Linked DNA regions of Homo sapiens: region 1 is linked to region 2. Evidence: fine-mapped expression QTL. A gene starts in region 2. The other region holds a variant in brackets. All regions are shown on one strand. Distances are between the middles of the regions. Region 1 overlaps SNX19 (sorting nexin 19). Region 2 holds the start of SNX19 (sorting nexin 19).

Evidence for each region. PIP is the estimated chance that this variant, and not a neighbour inherited with it, causes the effect.
Region 1: its variant is fine-mapped to the expression of SNX19 in whole blood (TOPMed, PIP above 0.99). The same link has a PIP of 0.9 or more in cerebellum.

The regions. Positions count from the first base shown.
Region 1 is chr11:130,889,276-130,898,661 of GRCh38, reverse strand. All of the region lies in intron 8 of SNX19 (sorting nexin 19), which reads left to right. Among named protein-coding and RNA genes, the nearest start is that of SNX19, 23 kb to the left of the region's middle. The variant G/C (reference allele first, on the strand shown) is at 4,139.
Region 2 is chr11:130,912,419-130,921,804 of GRCh38, reverse strand. It overlaps SNX19 (sorting nexin 19), which reads left to right and starts at 5,326. Exons shown (of 11, transcript NM_014758.3): 1 at 5,326-7,539. The coding sequence starts at 5,866. RefSeq lists a silencer at 5,134-5,413 and an enhancer at 5,534-5,583.

The DNA of each region.
Region 1 (9,386 bases), 23 kb after region 2:
TTGACATCTCCAGAGCTGCAGCACCTCTCCACTGTACCCCCTGCATCTCCCACAAGAGGCATGATATGAGGTCCCGTTGCCTCCCATCCCCATGACTGCTGCCTAGGAGGCTACATGTTTGTCCTCCCTGAAACCACGGGTAGCTGAGCCATATGCTTTTGCAGGGTACTTGGGTTCTCTTCCTTTAAGTTCCGTGCTTAAAAGAGCAGGATAGTTGGTGTTGGTGCCACACGTGGTACTGCCACTTCTCTAGTTATTTAGAACTCACTGCAGTTTGACCATCAGGGATGCTGTAGTCACCAGATTTGAGTGCATCTCCTCCTTAAAATGTCCTCATGTTCCAACCTCCAGTATTATTATCCCCAAGCAGGCAAGTTTATTCCTCTGCTTCCAACTTTGTATACCCATCTTGCAACTTTAAAAGACCTGTGTACATTACTGCCTTGGACGCCATAGACTTCTGTCAAATTATAAGCACACTCTCTATCCTGCAAAGGAAAAAAAAAAAACAGAGTAAGTTCGACCTCATAACCCCTCCTTCTAAGCCAAAGTTGGAAGAGCTCTGATCTGAGCCAGGCTTATAAATCTCCGTTGATTGTTGATGATGTGGAGAGAAGTGGGAGGGGAGCTGAAGAGAAGTTAGATGCCCAAAAAAGGCATTGTTAAGTCAAAGGGAAGTCTTGCATGCATGTGCGCCTAACCTCATGTGTCAGCTTCTGTGCTGGGAACATCCAATTATGTAACAAGAAGCACTCCTTATTTGGAATGAGAGACAAAGGGAGGGGAAGGGGAGAGCGGGTAGCACTCTGAGCCAAGGAGCAAATCCGGCTTGTGCAAACTCTGCTCATGCCCGAAAACAGAAGAAACTTGAAAATATCTCTGCAAACATCAGAATCAGATTTAGCAAACTGGGCAAGTACTCAGAGTTAGACTGGGTTGGAGGGAAAGAGGAGAGATACACTGTGCTGCATTGATGGTAGGGGGTTTGGGGCAGGAAGATCCAGCCAAGGTAAGGGGTAGGATTGGTGTGGAGTCCTGATGGAAAGTGAAGGAATGAGAAGCTGGACCGGCGCCCTGCCTGGACACCCAGAGCAATGCCACGATAAAAATAGGAACCATGCCAGCAGCAGAATGCGTGAATGCCACGTCCGCGGCGCTGCCCTCCCCATGGCCCCAACGATGGCATCAGACCTGTGTCAAAAGGGCAGCAGACACATTCCTGGCATCTGCGTCAGGATTTCTCAGTTAAAAAGGGAGTGTGTGTGTGTGTGTCTGTGTGTGTGTGTGTAAGATAGAGACAGAGTGTGTGTGTGTGAGTGTTGGGGGCATGTGGGAATGGAATGGCTTGGCAGAAAGCCAGGGGGAAAGGTTCTGGCAGAGGGGAGCGTGAAGTGTGTAAAGTTAGGAAGTATCCAGAGAGGAAGAAGAAAAGAAAGGGTGTGCAGGTTTAAGGAGTCCAACAAGCAGGGCACCCAGGAGAAACTTGATGGCAAGCTCTAGACCTTACACCAGACCTTGGAATCACTTTCTTAGAGAAGATGTCTCTCTCTAAACCATCTCCTAGGAAAGGTCAGGAGAGCTGCGGCAGAGTCTGGGAGCACTGGAGAGTGCTGTGCTGCAAGGCGCAACGTCCACCTCCCCTAAGGACAGTTGGGAAAGGTTGACCATGAACCCTCTTGCTTCCACTGTTCTCTTAGAACGCTCCAGAATCAAGGCGCTTTCTGTGGAACTCTACTTCAAGGGCCTCTTTCTTGGTGGGCATGTCTAACTAGCAGGTGGATAACAGTTCTTTGTGACATTGGTTATTTCTTAAGAGAACCTCCAGGTCTGCCACCAAAAGTGCACGAGTAATTGCAATGGGAAAGGAACTGACGCTTATTACAATATTAATACCAGGAAAGCAGCTATGTACTGTTTATATTAATGTTCAATTCTATGAGATAGACATGTAGTTCTACATTTCATAAGTGAAGAAAATTACATTCAGATAAAATAACGTTCCCAAAATCATAAAAGTCGTAACAACCACACCTTAAGATTCCACTTAAGTCATCCTGGCCTCAGAGCTCATGTGTTTCCCACTGCTCTGCCATGCTTCCCCTCCATGCAAGCTTTCCCACAAAGCAGTGGCCACTAGAACTGGGTTCACCTGAAAGTTCCCTTGCCGTATTCCCATCTAGCCTCTCTTGCTTTCCATCCAGCTGGTCTCAGGGACACACGCATCTGATGGTAGCATATAAATTATTTTTGTCTGCATATTCTGATTTTATTTTTAAAGCACTTCTGAGCCAGAGATTGTCTCTTAGCTATCTCTATTTATATGCTATTCACAATCAGGAAAAGATTATCAACGTTAAGACTCAGAGTTTCTCAGGAAGCATAGATTACAGTTTTTTCCTTTGCTGTGTAACTTTTTCTTCCAGTTCAGCTCTGATGCCTGGCTATGTCTTATACCCCATCTCTTCCTATGCACAGCTTTTCTAGAAATACGCATACTTTTGCAAGACCCCCACATACAAAATTAACTCAAGCTCAGTCTTCAGAATTCTCGCTTATTTTCTGGCTCTCCAGTCATTGGCTTGGGCTGTTTTTAGAGGTGCTGAAATTAATTTTTCTCATTGATGGCTTTGCTCAGATTGTACTGTGGCTCCCTGGGAAGGAGTACTGCTTGTCCCAGGCCTCTTCCATTAGGCCATGCCAAAGGGAAGCTCTTGACTTCTATAGACTGGGCCAGGATGGGCCCTAGCAGTTTCCCCTGTCATATGAGTGGTCTGCCTGTCATATTTCTTGGGTATCACTTATTCTACACCCATCTTAGGATGAAGACATCATGGCTTTCCTGTCACATAGTGACAGTCTCTACTGGAATATATCTTTGAGATTGTAGCAGGTGGATGGCAGCTGACAGCCGTGTGCCTGAGCATTGCATTTGCATTTCTGTGTGTGTGTGCTCTTGAAGTCTCATATACTCAAATAGAGGTACAAAATTGCTCATTGTAAAAGTTAACAAAAAACAGAATATCATGAGGTATTTAAACCTCAGAGCCTTTTTTTCCAAGTCAGGTTCTTGGCATCTCTTGCCCATCTGTGACTGCAAACAGGAACCTAAGATTTTGACATTTTGATGACAGCTTTAGAATGTATGTCAGCATCCTGAGGGCAGGGACTGCGTCTTATTTACCATTATATCTTCAACACCCAGCCCCATGCATAGAAGGCACCTAGTAAATTTGTGTCAAATAAATGAACACAGAAGATCACACGTCATTCTACTGGAGGCAGTCCCTCTGCTTATCACTATTAAGAATCTTAGGGTTTCCTCAACAGTGCTGGGGGACCAGAAGCAAAATGGAAACTGAGTCTTTCATTCCCTCCACACAGGGCATACCCAGATCTTCAGTTAATTGGGGAATTCTGATTCCCAGAGCCATGGTACGGCCTAAGCAAAGAGGTTTGGGGGCCCTTCAGGCCATCTCCCATTCTAATGGCTCTCTCCTTTCCAAAGAGTGCAGCGCCCCTCCACAACCTGGGCCTCCCAGTATGAAGCCCCACCGAGCCTGCCCTCTCTGGAAGCATCTCCTGCTGTTGTACTTTCTCCACCTCTTTCCTTCCACATGGAAAGCAAGAACTTGGACTTTGAAGTCAGATCTGAAATCAGATCTTGCTTTGAGGCTATGTGACTTAGAACAAACCACTTAACTTCCTTTGTCTGTTACTGTCGAAATAGAAATCATAGCCTAGTGCATGAAGTTCTTTGGGGGGATAAGAGATAATTTAGAGGTAAATGTTAGAGAGGCTTTATAGAGGAAGGTATAACAGCTAGATCTTGTGAGATAGGTGTCATTTAGACTGGTTTAGGCTAAATAATATTCTAGACACTAAGACATTTTTAAAACAGGAGGAGGGGCATTCTACTTTCAAATAAAAAGCAACCTGGAATATTTTTAGCCAGCTTCTTTCTGAATGTGTGTTGCTTTTATTGTTTCAAATAGGTGACAAAAAGCCTACCAAACTGCTGCTGCATGGCGTGGGCACAGGAATTCTCTCTATGGGCACCAGGTGGCGCTGCAGGTTAAACAATACCATTCACTGTCCTTTGAGGAAGACCTGTTTGTTTTGCAGTTATAGGTCCCCTGCC[G/C]TGATGTTGATACAGTATATTGAAGCCATTCCCTGGCTTGCTCTACGGTTTAGAGGCCACTTATCTGCCTACTCCTTAGTGCCAGTGACTTTTAGATAAGCCCTGTTTCTTTGATCTTTCACCCTTCTTCCTTCTGCTCTAATGCGTCTTCAGCATATGCTTGCTTCTCTGAGTGGTGTGGATGACCAGAAGTTGCCCCTTTGAGTGGATCCCACCCGTTAAAAATTCAGTGCTGGAGCTGATTCATTCAGAACAGAGTGAGCAGAACAGAGTCTGTGGTGATGAGACCAGCTAGACATCTGAATTGCAAGAATTTTGTTAATATTCTGTATAAACTACTTGGACCTATATTCAGGGTCTCCTGTGATCCTAAAATCTTATACATTATGTATTCACTAAGATGGAGATTGTCAGTGCTGAATAGCCCCGATGTTAGGAATCTTATCAACCTGTTACATAATCAAGGACATTCCCTATTGCTTTCGGCCATGGATGGAGACCGTTTGGCTCTCCCCCATTAACTTGGTTTTGGAGAAGCAACCATATGTTATTGCTTACTTTTGATCTTTACCTCTGTCCTTGCAGGCTTCTCCAAGTGCCCTTTGGAGAAGTAGAGCTATTTGGTACTGGAGCAGGGAGGGAGTTGGGTAAATTGGTGGGAAATATACTTTAGCTCTAATATAATGCTGGCCCCGAAAGATTTCTCGGAGAGGATTCAGCCTTCCTGGGAGGGAGGCTGGTGTGCAAATGCAGCATCAAGGTAAGTTCCTCAACACCTGCCTCCTCTCTCCCCCAGGTTTCCTTTTTGTTGTTTTTCCAGTTTTATTTATTACTCCTCTGTGTTTTCTACCCATAGTCAGTGCTCCCAAAGTTCCTATTCTGTGGAGATTCTGGAGTTGCCACTTCGGTGTCCCTACGTCCTTCATAACGGGATAGATGGCCTTCTACTTGGAAAGGTTTTACATTTCAGCCTGTAGACAGGGAACTGGAAATACTTTTGGGTAGCTCTTCTACACCAAGGTGATGGTGTTAATGATAGTCACTTTTCCTTCTCCTCTACACCCCTCTCAGTGTTTTTTCTCTTTGTTTATCTTGGGCATCTGCTTCTCATATATGTATTCTTTATTCTCCTCAAGGCTGGTCTTTTCCAGCCTCCTGTAGCCATTTTCACAGCATAATTTGAAGTCCTCCCATGTCTGCTGATTTAAATAAATCCCTAATAATTTTCTTCCAAATCATGGCTGAGCACACTCTAAATCTGTTATCCGTAATATTTGCAGAAATTTGGAGGTCAGCCCCTTCTGCGAGCACATAATTACTTATCACTTCTGCCTCCTGCAACCCTTCCCTTCCCATCCTCCTTTCCTGTGGTGGGAGTTCTATGTGCAGAGCAGAACAGGGAGATCTCCCTGTGAGGTAAAGCCCCCATGAACAATAGGGACTCTGGTCGTCAAGACAACCACTAAATTACTGCCTTCTTCCCTCTTTTGTGTCTTGCCTTTCTTCCTGGTGCTTCAGCACTAAGGGTTTTGCTCCCTCTCCCTGCCCTTTCCCCTCCACGGACTCAATTTTCTTCTGAATGGGTGGCCATTTTAATTACCTTCCCCCTTCCCCACCCCACCTCTCTGCCCTTGCCCTTGCTGCTGAGAAAGGCAGGCTCAGGATAACTACCTGGGGACTGAGAATGAGCCAGGCTTGCTGTTCACACGGGGACAAGGAAAGAAGAGACAGAGACATTTGGATCCTATAGTCTCTGCAGTGAAAGTTTTATTGGTTGGTACATGGAGGTCTGGTTTTAGGAAGGATTCGGAAATAGAGTTTTCATATTATCCAAAACCCCCTGAGGCCTCGTCCCAATTTTCTTAACTGCTCAGTACCAAATGCTTTACTGGTTTCAGTATTTACTTCCCTGAGCCTGCCAGGAAGAGTAAGCTTTACAAGTGAGAAAACTGAGGCATGAAATGCAAAGCTTACTCCAGATCCTGCCATCATTAGTTCGCTGAACCTGGTTGAATTTTTACAGAAGGTCTGAAGTAGTCTTTTTCTCTTTTACATGTGCAAACACACAAGCACTTTTAGAAATACTTTTTATTTTTCTTATTTCATCTTGATGATAACTTTGTGAAAAAGGCAAGGCAAGAATTTGCCCATTTTATAATGAAGGAAGCCAGAGCTCAGAGAGTTTGTTCAACTTTTATGTGGTTAAGCCAGGTTCAAACCTGTCTGTCGCTTTTCAGTGTCATTTTTAAAGTCTGTCAGTCCTGATTTTCTCAGAACTGGATTATAGTATGTCGGTAGCAACATAGTATGGGGCCAAAAAAAGGTTGACTTGAAAGACTTCAGAGGCACACTAGATTTGTGCATAGAAAACTTTCAGATTGGCCGGGCGCAGTGGCTCATGCCTGTAATCCCAGCACTTTGGGAGGCCAAGGTGGGTGGATCATTTGAGGTCAGGAGTTTCAGACCAGCCTGATCAACATGGTGAAACCCCGTCTTTACTGAAAATACAAAAAAAATTTGCCGGGCATCGTGGCGCATGCCCTTAGTCCCAGGTACTCGGGAGGCTGAGGCAAGAGAATCACTTGAACCCAGGAGGTGGAGGTTTCAGTGAGCCGAGATTGCACCACTGCACTCCAGCCTGGGCGACAGAATGAGACTGTCTCAAAAAAAAAAAAAAGAAAAAACTTTCAGAATGAAATCTTAAACATGTCACAATACTCAAATATAGAAATTGTTAGAGCTTTCCCTTTACAATCAGTCTTATTTATCCTAAAAATACACAGACCCCAAGTGTCTTTTTCTCTTTCTACATTTGTTAGAAAGGTAACCTGACCTTTGCTTTTGGTCTTTCCTCCCCCATTCTGCTACCTTCCTCTCTTCTTTTCTTCTTACTAGTTTCAAATAATGGGTTGGAATCAATTCAATGCTGCTCCATCCGTCAGAGGCACTTCCCAAAATACAAGTGTGACTCATAGTCCTCATAACCCCCCTTTGCTTTTTGTTTGACTTTCAATCTCTTCTATCCTCTGGGCCTATTTCCCAGGAAAATTGACCAAACATAAGCTACTGGCAGCTGTCTCTCTCCTCCAGGATTTATAGTGTGAGATAAGGAGCATGGCTGACCCACTCCCTTGCCTTCCAGCTCTCTTCCCTTCCAGAGGAATGCATAGCCAGGTGTGAATGCCCATTTCATGGATTATTCTTAGTTCTAGACCACCTGACTTATTACCTAGCATACCCGTTACAACATCAGCTCTATCGCTGGTGTATTAGCCCACAGTTTCATTTTATTATTAGCCTAAACAAAAGATTATTAGGAAAGTAAATCTGTCAGACGTGTATATAAACATATATGGAATGCCAAATATAAAGGATTTTTATATTGTCCATGATTTTTTAAAATCTATAATTGTCTTCCTCTGTAAGCATGAATAATTAAGAGCTCAATGTTTTTGCTGTTGTAAGTATTGGGATGTATGCTTTCTGCAGAACCTATTTTGAACTGTGTGCCATGCTTTAAGACCAGTGTTTGTCCCATATACAGCATGAATTCACTTAGTAACCAATATTTATTGATTGCTTTCTCTGTGGTAGGCACTTCGTTAAGTGATCAAAATACAAAAAAAAAAAAAAGACCCAAATCCCTACCATAGGAAGTGTGATATCCAATTGGAGGTGCAAACTTATAAATAGGAGTTGTAGTATAAAATCAGTGCTTTGAAAAGAACTCTATATGTGATTCAGAGAAGGGATTTATCAATTATGAGAGGTGCAGGGAAGGCTTATAGTAGATGACATCAGAGATGAGATTTAAAGAATGTGGGGCGTTGCCAGCGGACAGTGAGAGAGAGAGAGAACATTCAAGGCAGAGCAGTAAAACAATATAGTGTATTTGTGGTACTCAAAGAAGTTAGTATGATTGATTAGGAATATATGATATGCAAGAATAATGGCTGATGATAACAGTGAAGAGTTTAAAGGGAGTCTGCTCATTCAGACTCCTGTGAGTCATTCCAAGAACAAAACATTTGTCACTCATTTGATAGGAAACAATTTTACAAAACATAAACAGATGATGACATGAGCAAATTTGCAATTGAGAAAAATCATTTAAATAGTGCTGTGGAGGATTAATTAATTGAAGGGGCCAAAGTTAGAAACAGGAAGACAAATTAGGGAGGAGTTTCATTGATAGAAAAGGTGATGAGGCATTCAGCTGAGATCATTGCTATAGAGATGGTAAAGGGGTAATAGATTCATGAGATATTGAGGAGGTAGGATCACCTATATTTAGTGACTATTTAAATGATTATGTGGTGTTGGATTAGGGTTGAGAAAAAGACAAATCAAGAATGACTCACACAGTTTTCCACCTTGCAGATTGAGAAGCATAACTAAAAAGATGGGGTAATATCTTTCTGAACAGCATATTGGGGTTGTGGTTAAAATCCTGTTGCTTACTAAAGTAATAGATTAGTATCTACTCTGATTTATATAAAAATCAATGATGCACCCAGAGAAGCCTGTACTGTATCTCTAATAATTTTGAGATTCTTTTTAGTAGAAAACTTAAGGCCCAGATTATATTTTCAACTTTTTTTCTATCTGTAAGTTTCTTTAGAAGAAAAATGAAAACAGAGAATGAATAGCTAACCTTGTAGCTGGTACCAAGGCAAGGTTTTTAAATTTTCTGTGCCATGACGTATGATTATTCACATGGTGAACTTCTGACCACAGACAGAATACAACTCAAAAATAGTAGAAAGAATGTGTTTGTCAGCAGACCATCAACCCAGTGAAGAGTAAGACATTGACAAAAAAATTCAGATAAAGTTAAAACTGGATATTGAGAAAAACAGCTGACACAGAAAGGAAAGCAGAGATAGATGAGAGTACTGGAATTCACAGGAGCGTAACAGAATGAGATAAAAACTGTTTTACATGCTGTAAGAACAGATTAACTTAAAATTCACGCCTGAAGGTATCACTCAAAGTTTTGCAACAGGATCGATTCATTCAGTAAATATTTGATTGTTTATTTGTGAATGACACTATTAAATGCTAAAGGAGATGTCAAAATGAATTACATAAGATTTCTGCCTTCAAAACCTTAAGAGTCTTTTTCTGGGGGGTCGGGGGGCATTTACAAGAAGCTCAACCAATGCTTTGAGTAAATGAATGAACAAATTAAACACCCATTTCCAATGAGGAAGAAAAAGAGTCAGCATCAAATGAAACCAGGGTAGTT
Region 2 (9,386 bases):
CTCCTGCTTGCTTCTCTTTTATACCGAGGATACTTGATATGGCTTGGCTGGTTCCCCACCCAAATCTCATCTTGAATTCCCCCATGTTGTGGGAAGGACCCAGTGGGAGGCAATTGAATCATGGAGGTAAGTTTTTTTCCATGCTGTTCTCATGATAGTGAATAAGTCTCACAAGATCTGATGGTTTTATAAAGAAGAGTTCCCCTCCACAAGTTCATTTCTCTTTTTGCCTGCTGCCATCCATGGAAGACATGCTCTTCCTTGCCTTCCACCATGATTGTGAGGCTTCCCCAGCCACACGGAACTGTAAGTCCAATTAAACCTCTTTCTTCTGTAAATTGCCCAGTCTCAGGCATGTCTTTATTAGCAGCATGAAAAGGAACTAATACAGTAAATTGTTACCAGTAGAGTGGGGCTGCAGAAAAGATACCTGAAAATGTGGAAGCAGCTTTGGGACTGGGTAACTGGCAGAGGCTGGAACAGTTTGGAGGGCTCAGAAGAAGGCAGGGAAATGTGGAAAAGTTTGGAACTCCCTAGAGACTTGTAGAAAGGCTTTGGCCAAAATGCTGACAATGATATGGACAATGAAATCCAGACTGAGGTGGTCTCAGATGGAGATGAGGAACTTATTGGGAACTGGAGCAAAGGTGACTCTTGTTAAGTTTTAGTAAAGAGACTGGTGACATTTTGTCCCCGTTCTAGAGATTTTGGAACTTTGAACTTGAGAGAGATGATTTAGGATATCCGGCAGAAAAAAATTTCTAAGTAGCAAAGCGTTCAAGAAGTGATTTGGGTGCTGTTAAAAGCATTCAGTTTTATAAGGGAAGCATAGCATAAAAGTTTGGAAGATGTGCAGCCTGACAATGCAATAGAAAAGAAAATCCCATTTTCTGAGGAGAAATTCAAGCCCGCTGCAGAAATTTGCATAAGAAACGAGCAGCTGAATGTTAATCCCCAAGACAATGTGGAAAATGTCTCCAGGGCATGTCAGAGATCTTTCTTTGCGGCAGCCCATCCCATCACAGGCCTAGAGGTCTAGAAGGAAAATAGAGTTTCATAGGCCGGGTCCAGGGTCCTGGTGCTGTGTGTAGTCTAGGGACTTGGTGCCCTGCATCCCAGCTGCTCCAGCCATGGCTGAAAGGGCCCAACGTAGAGTTTAGGCTGTGGCTTCAGAGGGTGCAAGCCTCAAGGCTTGGCAGCTTCCACATGATGTTGAGCCTGTGGGTGCACAAAAGTCAAGAACTATGGTTTGGAAAACTCCATCTAGATTTCAAAGGATGTATGGAAATGCCTAGATGCCCGGGCAGAAGTTTGCTTCAGCAGCTTGGCCCTCATGAAGAACCTCTGCTGGTCAGTGAGGAAGGGAAATGTGGGGTGAAAGCCCCCACACAGAGTCCCTACTTGGGCACCACCTAGTGGATCTGTGAGAGGAGGGCCACTGTCCTCCAGACTGCAGAATGATAGATTGACCAACAGCTTGCACCATTCACCTTGAAAAGCCAGACACTCAATGCCAGCTCGTGAAAGTAGCTGGGAGAGAGGCTCTACCCTGCAAAGCCACAGGAGTGGAGCTGCCCAAGACCATGGGAACCCACTTTTTGAATCAATTTTGGAGTGTTAAGATTTGACTGCCCCACTGGATTTCGGACTTTCATGGGGCCTGCAGCCCCTTTGTTTTGGCCATTTATCCCATTTGAAATGGCTGTATTTACCCAATACCTGTACCCCCATAGTATCTAGGAAGTAACTAACTTGCTTTCGATTTTGGAAGCTCATGGGCAGAAGGGACTTGCCTTGTCTTGGATGAGACTTTGGACTGTGGAATTCTGAGATAATGCTGAAATGAGTTAAGACTTTGAGGGACTGTTGGGAAGGAATGATTGGTTTTGAAATGTGAGGATATGAAATTTGGGAGGGGCCAGGGGTGGAATGATATGGTTTGGTTCTGTGTCTCCACCCAAATCTCATCGTGAATTGTAACTCCCACAATTCCAATGTGTCATGGGAGGAACCCGGTAGGGGATAATTCAATCATGGGGGCAAGTCTTTCCCATTGTTCTCATGATAGTGAAGAAGTCTCATGAGACTGATGGTTTTATAAAGAAGAGTTCTCCCACACAAGTTCATTTCTCTTTTTGCCTGCTGCCATTCACGGAAGATGTGACTTGCTCCTCCTTGCCTTCTGCCATAATTGTGAGTCTTCTCCAGCCATGTGGAACTGCAAGTCCAATTAAGCCTCTTTCTTTTGTAAATTGCCCAGGCTCCGGTGTGTCTTTATCAGCAGCATGAAAATGGACTAATACAATACTAAACACCTCCAGAGAAAATAACTCAACCATATGTATTGGTGCCACTACAAAAAGGTCCCTCAGCCCCACCTTCTCTCTTTTTTTTTTTTTTTAGACGGAGTCTCGCACTGTTGCCCGGGCTACTGGAGTGCAATGGCACAATCTCGGATCACTGCAATCTCCACCTCCTGGATTCACGCGATTCTCCTGCCTCAGCCCTCCGAGTAGCTGGGATTACAGGAGCACACCATCACACCTGGCTAATTTTTTTGTATTTTTAGTAAAGACGGGGTTTCACTATGTTAGCCATACTGGTCTTGAACTCCTGATCTCGTGATCTGCCTGCCTCAGCTTCCCAAAGTGCTAGGATTACAGGCATGAGCCACTGCGCCCAGCCCCCACTTCATCTTTTTACCTGACCTTCGATAGCTCCCTTTCTATATCCCACAGCAATAATTCCATACCATCGCCTCTTCTCACTCACTTGCCCCATCACTGAGCTTCTCTTTAGGAAGCCTCCTGGTCTTCTATTTTGAGAGAAAATTCAAGTGGGGTGCGGGCTGGCTCTGGCAGGGCCTATGTCACGGGCCCCCCTGCTCTCATGGTCTCTGCCTGTTTCTTATGAGCAGGCCTCTGCCTGAAAGACCTTCCTTCTGTTTGCCCCTTGCTCTCGCTACCCAACATTTCCTAAAATACACTCAATTCTTTTTCATTTCCCAACTTAAGGGAAAACTGTCTATGAGCCACCCCCCTCCACAGCTGACCACCCGCTTTGTGTTTCGATTTTATTGTATGCACTTCTATTACAACACATCAGAACACATCACATTACACACGTGATCATGTTTCATTACGTTTATATATTTATGTGTCTCTCCTTTAACTAGACTGAGAGTCCCTTGAGGAGAATTATTGTATCTTATTTGTCTTGTTTTCTCCAACACTCTAGCACTATGCCTTTAATGTTTTGAGAAATAGGGAAAAGGAAAGAAGGAAGGACGTCTCCAGATGGTGAGTGGTGTGGCCAAGTCTCCCCACCCCACATACACACACCAGGGCACATCAGTCCTGACTCTCACCTCCTCCCAGTGATTAATCTGTTTGGAGACCAGGGTCTGCCCAGACCCCCAGGCAGGAGCTCACACCCGTCCAAATGACAAGTGCACGGGCATGTCCATCAAACCCGCTTCAGAATCAGGAAGGCACTCTTGGCTACCTTGATGCTCCAGACCATCTGGTCAGGTGGCATAGCGCCCACTTGCAAGGTCACTTCCTTACTGCCCTGAACACTCCAGATTATGCTGCCAAGTAAACTTTCTCTTTGAACTGCCACAGGAAGTCTTCAGCACCGTCGGTAGTCCCTTCATCATTCACATTTCTGTTTTAGCTCCCAACTAGGTGGCAGGGACTTTTCTCCAGAGCATTGTTGCCATTTTCTAAGTGCTCCTGAGGACATTAGAATGGTCTGGGAAGGTAGAGGGGCAGAGCCCACTTCTCGGGTTCCTTTTCTGCGGGAAGGCAGGCAGCAGTGAAAAGGTATGGACCGTGAAACCGTGGATTCACATTCTGCCATCTCACGGGAGTGCCCAGTCTGCTTAGTGGACACTGATCCTAAATCAAACCATTTGCTTTAGAAGTGATGAATCGTAAACTACGGGTCACATCTAAATGATGGCTTCTTTCGTATTCAAAGGAAGTCTCTGCCCCAACAGCAGCAATGGACGAGACAGGAAGCTGCAACGCACTTCTTGTTGGCAGAGTTTTGGGTTGGGATTTGTTTGAAGATTCCTTTAAACATCTAGGGAGTAGTCCATGATGATGAAAGACTGCTCACAGCACAGAGAAGGTGGACGAAGGGCAACCATGAGCAGCTCTGTGCAAACGATGCGAATCCTATGCCTAAATGGAAAGGAGACCCACCCTGCGGGCACAGCTCCTAGGGCCCAAGGTGGACATGGAAGCTGGCTTCACGCAAAACTGACACTAACACTTTTGACACCTGGTCAGTGCTTCCGGTATTTTGTCTTCCTATAGGTTCCTGTGTAGACAAGTGAAGTCTAATTTGCTAAAACCAAAAACAATCCAACATAGAGCATATTCCAAAGCAAATATATTACAGGATTATCTGAAAGGACACCTCTATCTCTGCTTTCCTTTTCTATGTTTTTGGGGAGGATAAGGCGAGAAGAGATAGAGGGAAATAGAAACCCTCATCCTTGAAGACTCAGCAGAAAGGCACCTTTTCTGTGAGCTTCTCCTTAACCATTGCAACCCACAGTGATCTCTCCTTCCCCTGAATTCCTATAAGATTTTGTATTTTACTATATCGCACGCTGACTGGCATTACTAGATAGCCAATCGCGTTCAAAGCGCTGGCATCCCCAGTTAGCAGGAGGTCCTGGAGGACAAGGTCTGCTTCTATTCGTCCACGCTGCCTCTCACATTGAAGACAGCAGATGCTCAAAATATTTGATTGTTTGTGTAATGCCACCAGCAAATAACCCTCAATCACAAATTTGATTTTGTGATACAGTATATGAAATGTACAACATAAATCTATCTCTGTATCGTTTCATGCCTTATATTCTGCAATTCCTGACAACAAATGAGGGTCTTTGTGCTGGGGACGCGGGGTACCGGCTCTAGGGGAAACCGGATAAATGTTAAGACACATCAGGCCAATGAAACTTCGCCTCCATGAAATTAAAATAAACCGGATTATTGACAGCGTGCCTAAGCAGTAAAGGACAGGCTTCATTTAATAACCAGAACTAGGACGCGTTTTAAAGCGCCTGGAAGTCTGGGTCTTAGCGGTGATTGCTGCGGCGGCTGTTTCGTGGCACTTCGGAAATCTGCGCCAGCTCTTGGCGAGCACGCGCCCCGTGCGCGCTCAGGCTCACGCTCAGGCTCAGAGACTACCTCGCGCAGGGCCGTCAGGGCGGCTCCTCGCCAGCAGAGGGCGCCGGGCAGCGCCGCTCCTCGGGGCGCGCGCGGACGCTCTCCCAGCATGCCTCGCTCCCGTCGACGTCGACCCGGAAGCTGTCGCCGGCGGCCGGCCGGCGGTCAGCCTTCACACAGGCCCGGCTGCGGAGCGCAGTCGCCCAGGTTTACGGCGGCAGAGGGCCGAGGCTCCCGGAGAGGACCGCGATGAGTCCACTTCAGGTCGGGGCTGAGTGTGGGCGCGCGGTTCCCGGCGGCGTGTGACCCAGTCTTCGCCGGCCGCTGCCCGCTGCGTGTGTAAGTGTCCGTGGGCCCCAGGGCCTTGCAGCGCCCGCCCCGAGGCCCCGAAGAGGCCTTCCGCCTGGGGCAGTGTGAAGGCCACAGAGTTTTCCTCCAAAGCCACACCTCAGCTGGAAGGGGCGAGTTGGAGGGCTCTGTTAGTGGTAGCCATGGGGAGACGCGGAGCTGCAGCTGTCGCTTTGCAGTGCCTGTAGGACTTTGAGGGCCTGGAGCCCCGGTTCCCTGAACAGCACCCAGATCGCCCCATATCTGAGACACAGTTCATGCCCCCCTTCCCTAACTCTGAAGTAAAATCTTGAGGGCTGTCATCTGGGGAAGCCACCTTGTCCGTTCAGCCATGAAGACAGAAACAGTGCCACCGTTCCAGGAAACTCCAGCTGGATCGAGCTGTCACCTCAATAACCTGTTGAGTAGCCGGAAGCTGATGGCTGTGGGGGTCTTGCTTGGCTGGCTCCTGGTCATACACCTTCTGGTCAACGTGTGGCTGCTGTGCCTTCTGTCGGCATTGCTAGTGGTGCTGGGAGGATGGCTGGGCTCCAGCCTCGCTGGAGTGGCTTCAGGTCGACTGCATCTGGAACGCTTCATCCCGTTGGCCACCTGTCCTCCATGCCCTGAGGCAGAAAGGCAGCTGGAACGGGAGATCAACCGCACCATCCAGATGATTATTCGAGATTTTGTGTTATCTTGGTACCGTTCCGTGAGCCAGGAGCCAGCCTTTGAGGAAGAAATGGAGGCAGCCATGAAAGGGTTGGTCCAGGAGCTTCGGAGAAGGATGAGCGTGATGGACAGTCATGCTGTTGCCCAGAGTGTTCTGACTCTCTGCGGTTGTCACCTGCAGAGCTACATTCAGGCAAAGGAGGCCACTGCAGGGAAGAATGGTCCAGTTGAGCCTTCCCACCTCTGGGAGGCTTACTGCCGGGCGACTGCCCCACATCCTGCTGTGCACAGCCCCAGTGCTGAAGTCACCTATACGCGTGGCGTTGTGAATTTGTTGCTTCAAGGGCTGGTGCCCAAGCCCCACTTGGAGACTCGTACCGGACGCCATGTAGTGGTCGAACTCATCACATGCAATGTAATCTTACCACTGATCAGCAGGCTGTCAGATCCTGACTGGATCCACCTTGTACTCGTGGGTATCTTTTCCAAGGCCAGAGATCCAGCACCCTGCCCAGCCAGTGCCCCCGAACAGCCCTCAGTGCCGACATCTCTGCCACTGATTGCTGAGGTAGAGCAGCTTCCAGAAGGGAGAGCTTCTCCAGTAGCAGCCCCAGTATTCCTAAGTTACAGTGAGCCAGAGGGTTCTGCAGGCCCCTCTCCAGAGGTTGAAGAAGGCCACGAAGCTGTAGAGGGAGATTTGGGTGGGATGTGTGAAGAAAGAAAAGTAGGAAACAACTCATCTCATTTCCTACAGCCAAATGTTCGAGGTCCCCTGTTCTTATGTGAAGACTCAGAGCTGGAGTCTCCGCTGTCTGAACTGGGCAAAGAAACCATCATGCTCATGACTCCAGGCAGCTTTCTCTCTGACAGGATTCAGGATGCCCTGTGTGCCCTAGAGAGTTCCCAGGCTCTGGAACCCAAAGATGGTGAGGCATCTGAAGGAGCAGAGGCTGAGGAGGGTCCAGGGACAGAAACAGAGACAGGCCTGCCGGTCTCCACACTGAATTCCTGCCCAGAGATCCATATTGACACAGCAGACAAGGAGATAGAACAAGGAGATGTTACCGCCTCTGTTACAGCTTTGCTGGAGGGGCCAGAAAAGACCTGCCCCTCACGGCCGTCATGCTTAGAGAAGGATCTCACCAATGATGTGAGCTCCCTTGATCCTACTCTGCCACCAGTTCTGCTTTCCTCCTCTCCACCTGGTCCTCTCAGCTCAGCCACCTTCAGCTTTGAGCCCCTAAGCAGTCCCGATGGTCCAGTTATCATCCAGAACCTTCGTATCACTGGCACCATTACAGCCCGAGAGCACAGTGGCACTGGATTCCACCCATACACACTCTATACTGTGAAGGTAACAGGATTAAAGCTGTGGGTGCTCACCCGGGCTAGGAGTGGGTTTGGAAAGCAGTCATGAAGCAAATGTTCTTGGGGGAGAGATGCTGTTAGTTTGAAGTGGTTCTTTCAATAGGCATCTATCTCTGTGAATGGTCTGAAGCTAATATGTAAGGCAGAGTAGCGTTTATCCTGTACTCACACAAGCAATCCTGGAACCTCAGGGCTGCTAGAATGCTGAGGGTTATATTTTCAGTGGTTCCCAAACTTGGCTGCACCTCAAAATCACTTGAGCTGCCTTTCAGATATACAGATTCTGACAGACTCTGTTGGATTCTGTATGAGAATTTCTAAGGAGGGGGTCCCTGGATTCTGTATTTTATTTATTTTCAAATAGAACTCTCCAGATAACATAGAGTCAGCCTGTCCTAAGGCCATCTTGGGGAATTGCCTCTCTAATCCAACCAACCCTCTTCATGTTATCTCTTGTCAAGTTGTTCCCAAGTCTGCTTACACACCTCCAAGAGTCAAAAACTTGCTATCTTCTGAGATAGACATAGGTAAATAACCTACCTTCCTAAAACAAAGTACAAAATGTACCAGTATTTTGAAAAAGAAATCAGCAGGGAAGAAGTTGAGAAAGAAAATTCTTGGACAAGATCCTACCCATTGGATTTTACTTGCCTTCCACACTTGAATTTCTCTCATTTGAGTCCACAAGCTACCACCAGGGACAGCCTGCTTGCTACACTCCTCCGAACTCCCAATCCAACTAAGAGGGAAAAGACCTTCCTTGATCTGCTCAACACAGCTGCATCATGACATAGCATTTTAGAAAGTAACATTATGACATTTTCAAGTAAGACGGAATGGAAGTAATTAGAAATGCATATGGGTGAACACACAGACACACACTCATTATAGGCAAATTGTAGAAGTACAGATGTCTGGTCATAAAATAACTGAGACTAGCCTCAAAGGACTGGTATAACTTTGTTAACATTTTCCTGCCTTTTTGTTCTAATTCTGGATGCCCCTATGCCATGCACCTTTCTCACATTTAAGTGTTGGCTTCTGGTTATTTCATCTTTTTTTAATGACTATTCCAATACTGACATAAAACAGCAGGTTTTTTCCCTCCTCATTAGCAGAAAAATTAAGTTGATGGATAGAATGTTTAAGTTCCCAGTCTTTCTCCCATTATTTGTTCTTTTTTGTTGTTGGCTAGATTTTGACATCTGCTACTGCTTCAATTAAGCATTAGAAAAGAGTAAAGTAAAAAATGAGAACGAAATAATATAGCCAATTATGAGTAGTTTGAAATTGGGTTTAGATTTTTATATGGACATATAACTGATTTTAAATTGTATATCAATATTATTATACTTTCTGATAGTAAATAGTTTTCGGTTTATGTGATGGAAGTAACCATAACGGTGTTGAAAATTGGCCCTCGAGGAGCAGCATATTCCACAGAAAGCCTCATAGTTCCAAATGCTCCAGGCTTGAGAGCCCCACCCTGAATGCCACCTGTTGCTCTTACTTGGTCTTTCCTTCTCAGTGCTGTTCTGAGGGACTGCTTTGCTCACATCAGCTCATAATGAATACCCTGTCTCCAGAAAATTGTAAAGCACCAGCCACAACTCCCACCAACGAGGAGGTAGTTTTTTCCACCTCTTGCCCACAGTATACCTCAACCGAAAAATAATAGCCCATTCCTAATGAGAAGGCGCACATATATACTTCTCCCACAGCGTTTCATTGTGTCTTAACTACCCTGTCAAGAAGTGTGCCCCCATGCTGAGTTGCAGATTCCATGCCATCCGTGGTATTCACTCTTTGGGGAACATGAGATATAAGTCGTCT